Homo sapiens: one gene and its partner. The protein of the gene in region 1 purifies or fractionates together with the protein of each later gene. This does not show direct contact. Each region holds a gene or a part of one and is shown on either strand. Other genes may lie near its edges.

The links.
Region 2: the proteins of KCNC3 (region 1) and RHBDD3 purify together in Homo sapiens (affinity purification with mass spectrometry; one large-scale study listed by BioGRID and IntAct). This does not show direct contact.

What each region holds. Positions count from the first base shown.
Region 1 is NC_000019.10:50,315,878-50,319,377, forward strand, and holds part of KCNC3 (voltage-gated potassium channel KCNC3), read right to left. Parts: intron 215-3,500; 3' UTR 1-214. UniProt on the Homo sapiens protein: Voltage-gated potassium channel that plays an important role in the rapid repolarization of fast-firing brain neurons.
Region 2 is NC_000022.11:29,259,372-29,262,176, forward strand, and holds the end of RHBDD3 (rhomboid domain-containing protein 3), read right to left. Parts: intron 2,055-2,805; exon of another isoform or gene 1,829-2,054; intron 1,494-1,828; coding exon 1,331-1,493; intron 1,243-1,330; coding exon 955-1,242; intron 867-954; coding exon 689-866; 3' UTR 501-688; downstream 1-500.

The DNA.
Region 1 (3,500 bases):
CTGCACCCCCGCAGGGAGCTCTGTGGCTTTTCCAGGCAACGCTAAGGGAGCTGTCTGGACAAAAGGTGTCTTGATCGTAGGAGGGAGGGCTTGGGGGGAGATTTGAAGCCCAGTGTCTTGGGGACACCCCCTCCCAGCCATTCCCAATTGCTAACCTGGGGGGAAGGGGCGGGGGGGACCGAAAGTCTCGCGAGGTCTCAGGCGGTGACAAGAGCTGGGGACAGAAATACACAGAGTCACGGGGGTGGGGAGAGGATGGTCAGGGGAAACCCCCCAACACAGCCTCACTGTTGGGGGGATGGAGAAACGCCGCCGGGATCATTTCCTCCTCTCTGGTGTTTTCCGCGGGAGGGGAGCAGTGAAATGGGGGGCGGCTGAGACATCAAATATGGAAGGAGCTTCCGGGCTGGCTGGGGAGGGGGAGGGGAGGAGGAAGGATGGGAGGAGGGAGAGTTCTGGGGAGGAGTGGGAGCCAGTGATCAGGTGAGGGCAGATGTAGGAGGGAGGAGCAGGGGTGGAGGACAAGCCTGGAGGAAAGGAGGGTCTTGGGAGGACCATAGGGGACAATTAGGGAGGGAAGAAGCCTGGCGCAGTGGCTCAGACCTGTAATCCCAACACTTTGGGAGGCCAAGGCAAGCAGATCACTTGAGTCCAGGAGTTCGAGACCAGCCTGGCCAACAAAACCCCATCTCTACTAAAAATCCAAAAATTAGCCGGGTGTGGTGGCAGGCACCTGTAATTCCAGCTACTCTGGAGGCTGACGCAGGAGAGTCACTTGAACCTGGGAGGCAGAGGCTGCAGTGAACCAAGATTGCGCCACTGCACTCCAGCCTGGGCGACAGAGCGAGACCCCATTTCAAAAACAAAAACGAAAGGGTTGGGAAGGGAAGGTTGTGGTAGGAGAGACTCTTGGGGGAAGGAGCATGGGGGGCAATAGGCCAAAGGGGTCTTGTGGGAGGGAGGGTTGTGGGGCTGAAGGACAGCAAGGAAAAGGCTTGGGGAGGGCTGGAGGGGGAAGGATCCAGGGCACCAGGGATAGAAGCTTCAGCCAACCCCATCAGCTCCAGCCATGATTTGAGTTCAATGAATGGATTTTGGCATCATAGGCAAGAGAAGCAGGGACCTCCCCCACCCAGCCACCCCCACCCCAATCCTCCCTCACCCATAGGCCCACACCCTCTCCCCCTCAATCCCATAGGGGCCCCTCTAGACCTGGGGGTGGGGAACAGAGGAAGGTAAAGGACTGGGAGTGGGTGCAAGCAGGGGGAGGAGTTAGATAGGAGCAGGGAGGGGAGTGGGGGGGTAATGAGCTGGAAATGGACAATGACGGGGAGGTTACAAAAAGGAGAGGTGGGGGGGATGGAACAAGAGGAGCCAGACAGTCCCCCCTCTGGACTAGGAGCCCGGAAGCCTGGGGTCTCGGCCCTTGTGCTCTGTGGCCTGGGGTGGTGGGTTGGTCATGGCCTTCCCTGAATGTCTGTGAAACACAGGGGTTTAGGTGAGGCCATTCCTGGAAGCCCCCCAGGTTCCCCTATGGCATCTCCTTAGGCTGTGGACAGGGATCCTTTAGGATGTGTCTCTGCATTTCTAAAGAAGATTCCACAGACGGCTGTTGAATGAATGCATGATGGATCACATACCTTCAGGTGGCTTCCCTTCACGTTTAAGATAAAGTCCCGCCTCCTCACCATGGCCGAAAATCCGTCCTGATCTTTCTCCCTGGACTCCAGCAGCCCTCTCCCCTTGGCCACTGGGATCAGCCTCACTGTGCTCCTTGCTGTCCCTTGAACAAGCCAAGCTCATCCTCCACCCCCTCCCCCAGGGAAGCTCAGGGCCTGTGCACTTGCTGTTTCTTCTGCCTGCCTGGCCCTTTTCACCCTCCAGGTTCTGTGTCACCTCCTCAAAAAGTCCTTTGCAGAACTCCTTTTCTTCCCCCAGAGATGGGGTCTTACTCTGTCCCCCCAGGCTGGAGCACCATGGCACAATCATGGCTCACTGCAGCCTCCCAGACTCCTGGGCTCAGACAGTCCTCCCACCTCAGCCTCCCAAGTAGCTGGGTCTACAGGCATGCACCACCACACCTAAGTTTTTTGGTTTTGAGGAAATGGTCTTGCTCTGTTGCCCAGGCTGGTCTCAAATTTCTAGGCTCAAATGATACTCCCACCTTGGCCTCCCAAAGTGCTGGGGTTATAGGCGGCAGCCACTGTGCCCAGCCAGACCTCTTTAACTGAAGTGGCCAGAGTAATAGTCTTGTTCTTTTATCTTTATCTTAATTGCTTCTTTTCTTCTTCTTCTTCTTCTTCTTTTTTTTGAGAGGGAGTCTCACTCTATTTGTAGCCCAGGCTGGAGTGCAGTGGTGTGATCTTGGCTCACTGCAACCTCCACCTCCCGGGTTCAAGTGATTCTCCTACCCCAGCCTCCCAAGTAGCTGGGACTACAGGTGCCCACCACCACGCATGGCTAATTTTTGTATTTTTAGTAGAGATGGGGTTTCACCATGTTGGCCAGGCTGGTCTCGAACTCCTGACCTCAAGTGATCCACTGTCCTCGGCCTCCCAAAGTGCTGGGATTACAGATGTGAGCCACCCCCGCCGCCCAGCCTTAATTGCTTATTTTCTGCTTCTTCCTATGAGCGGCTGGAAACTTTTCCTGTAAAAGGCCAGATAGTAAATCTCTTTGGCTATAGGGGCTGTATAGTCTTTGTCCCAATTATTCCACTCTGCTGTCGTGGCTTAACATGGTTGTGTTCCAATAAAGCTTTGTTTACAAAAACAGATGCTGAAAGATCAGGCCCTCAGGCTGGAGTTAGTTTGCGGACCCCTTACAATCTGGAGACTGTAAACCGTGATGGCAGATTCACGCTTTGTTTTATCCCAAATTTGTAGTGCCTGCAACTGTGTTCTCAAGAATCAGTTGTGGCCATGGGTGGTGGCTCATGCCTGTAATCTTAGCACTTCGGGAGGCCAAGGCAGGAGGACTGCTTGAGCCCAGGAGTTCAAGACCAACCTGGCCAACATAGCGAGACCCCAACACTTGAATCCAGGAGGCGGAGGTTGCAGTGAGCCGAGATTGCACCATTGCACTCCAGCCCAGGTGACATAGCAAGACAGTCTCAAAAAAAAAAAAAAAAAAAAAAAGAATCAGTTGCTGAAACAGTGAATGAATGGATTGAATACATGAATGAAAGGAGCTAGGAGTTGGCTTGGATTGTTACAAGGATTAAAGAATATATGTTAAATTCCTAGCATGTGGTAGGTACTTGGTGATATTTGCTGAATGATTCGTCTACTAAATAGCACCACTGTCTTATCCCCCTCACTTCTGCATGGCCGGCAGCCCCCAGTCTGTCCCTTCTGATCCCTGACCCCGACTCTCTCGGCCTCGTCCCTTCCTCTCCATCCTCACAGCCCTGGCCCCAGCTCACGCTTCCACCTGTCACCTCAGCCTCCTAACTTCCAGCCTCCCACCTCCAGTCCATCCTCACAAGACCCCAGAGCTGC
Region 2 (2,805 bases), on another chromosome or scaffold:
CAGTGCTGGGCTCCCCACCCCGAGGTCAGGCTGCCCAATCCTCTGACTGGATCACCGGGGGCTTCTTGCCTCAGTTCTTCCCTCTGAGCCCCCAGGCCCTCCCGCATCTCAGGTTGGGGATGGGGACATGGAGAGGAAGGGGCCGCCTACTCCTGCAAATGCTTGTGACAGATGCCAGGAGGTAGATGTGTGCTGGCCAATAAAGGCCCCTACCTGATTCCCCGCAGCTTGGTCTCAGTGTGTGCTTAGATGGGGGCAGCTGGGAATGAGGCTACGACGGAGAGGGCTAGAAATGGGCGGTGGAGAATGCTCTGTGCTGGAGGACAGAGCCTCCTGGAGGTATAGGCTGCAAGGTGCAGGGCCAGGAAGCCTGTGTCTCTGGACATCAGGGAACAGCTCTCCCACAACTGGTCATTCATTTGGTGCTCACTCATTCATTCATCCCCCTGATGCCAACACAGAAGAGTCAAACACAACTGCTGCCTCCAAGGAGGTCCAGGTTGAAAAACAAACTGGTTTTTATTCTAAACACGTACTAGGGCAGCATGCTGGGGGGCCTCTCCTGCCTCCAGAGGTGCCCCTGCTCCCCACTGTGGCCCTCTTTAGACAGAGTAGGAGCTCGGGCTACCCACATGCAGCCCAGCCCTTAGCACCCAAGGGCCTGCCTGTGCCCCACTCTCTGCCTGGGCTAGGGAGGCCCAGGACCCTCGGAGTGGGCAGGCCCACCCTTTCCATGGGTCACCAGGGTCTCAGTGCCCACTTGTCCTCCAACCAACAGTGACACGGCACCCTCCACACGGCCTGTGGCTGCCAGTGCCACCACCGCCTGCTCCGTAGGGAAGCCCATGCGCTCCAGCTGCTGCAGCCTGTTGGGGGTGGGGGGAGAAGTGGGGAGTGTCAGGGCCACCCCGGCCCCTATACCAGGGGACCCCACCTCTGCCCACCCCACCTTACCGCAGAGAGGAGACAGAGGACTTGGACAGCCATGGTGCGCTCTGGGGTTCCTGGGCTGGCCCGTCAAGAAGCGAGGCCTGGATGCCCTCCTGCAGCATCTGCTCATCCAAGGCCGCCCACATCGGAGTCCCTGGGGAGAAGCTGGCCCCAGCCCAGTCCAGGCCTGCCTCTGAGGAGCCCTCCCAGGTGGGCTGCACAGGCCTCAGGCTTGGTGGGGGCAGGGCTGAGTCTTCCCAGTGGGACCAGAGGTCAGGGGAGGCCACATAAGGCGGTCCAGGGATGGGAGGCCTGGAGGAGTGGGAAGAGAAGAGGGCCTGACTGGCAGCCCTGCCACAGTGCCCACCACCTGGACTGGCATCCCCCCCATCACCCTCACCTCACTCCGGCAGGATGGGTGACAGGCAGCTCCGCCAGGCTACCCGGGGTGGCAAGGAGCCTCAGGGGCCAGCACCCCGCCAAGGTCCTGCACAAGACGCCCTCCTGCAGCACCTGCAGCCGTCGCTCTGAGGGTTCCAGCCACCGGAAGGCCCCAGCTGCATCTGTCTGCCCGGGGCAGGGCGGCCGGTCAAGGAAAACCAAAAGCAGCCAGGGGTGGGCCCACGCCACAGGCCAGGCCCCATGCCAAGTGTGCTGGCCACCATTCCCTCCCGTCTCCTCACTGTGGACCAGCATGGAATAGCGTCACCCTGGTCAGCAGCAGAGGCTCAGAAAGGAAAAGGGATCTGCCTGAAGCTACTCAGCCAAACAGAGCCAGGTATGCCTCACCCCAAGGCCTGGGCTCACCCGTGACCCACTCTGTTCCCAGAACCCTATGCACCTTTTCAGGTCTGTAACTCAAGACCCACCCGTCCTGGAAGAAGTCCCATGGACACACCTGCTATTGCCTTCAGACAGGCCTGGATAACTCCTGTCACCAATCCAGAGTGCAGAGGCCAGCCTGTTCTCTCCAGTGGCACTGTTTTCCCCGATAGGTATGAATCATCTTAGGGCTGGACGCAGTGGCTCACAGCTGTATAATCCCAGCACTTGGGGAGGCTGAGACGGGAGGATCACTTGAGGCCAGGAGTTCAAGACCAGCCTGGGCAACATAGACCCCGTCTCTACAAAAAATTTTTAAAATTAGCTGGACGTGGCAGTGCACACCTGTAATCTCAGCTACTCAAGTGGCTGAGGCAAGAGGATCGCTTGAGCCCAGGAGTTTGAGGCTGTAGTGAGCTATGATGGCGTCGCCACACTCCAGCTTGGGTGACAGAATGAGACCCTGTCTCTAAAAATTAAAAAAAAAATCTCAGAAGCAGAACACCAATAAAGAGTGCTCTAGCACGACTTATTTATTTATTTATTTTTGAGACAGAGTCTCACTCTGTCACCCAGGCTGATATGCAGTGGTGAAATCTCGGCTCACTGCAACCTCCAACTCCGAGGTTCAAGCAATTCTCCTGCCTCAGCTTCCCGAATAGATGGGATTACAGGCACGTGCCATCACACCTGGCTAATTATTTTGTATTCTTAGTACAGGGTTTCACCATGTTGGCTAGGCTGGTCTCAAACTCCTGGCCTCAAGAAATCGGCCCACCTCAGCCTCCCAAAGTGCTAGGATTACAGGCGTGAGCCACTGCACCCAGCCTCTAGCACCATTTATTAAAAAGAATATTCTTTTCCTCATTGAATCGACTTGGCACTCTTGTCAAAATAAATTGACTATACAGTAAATCTAACAGTTTATTTCTAGATGGTCAATTCTAGTCCATTGATCTGTATGTCTATCCTGATGCCAGTACCACAATATCTTGATTATTATAATTTTGTACGGCTTTTTTTTTTTTTTTTTTTTGGAGAGAGTCTTGCTCT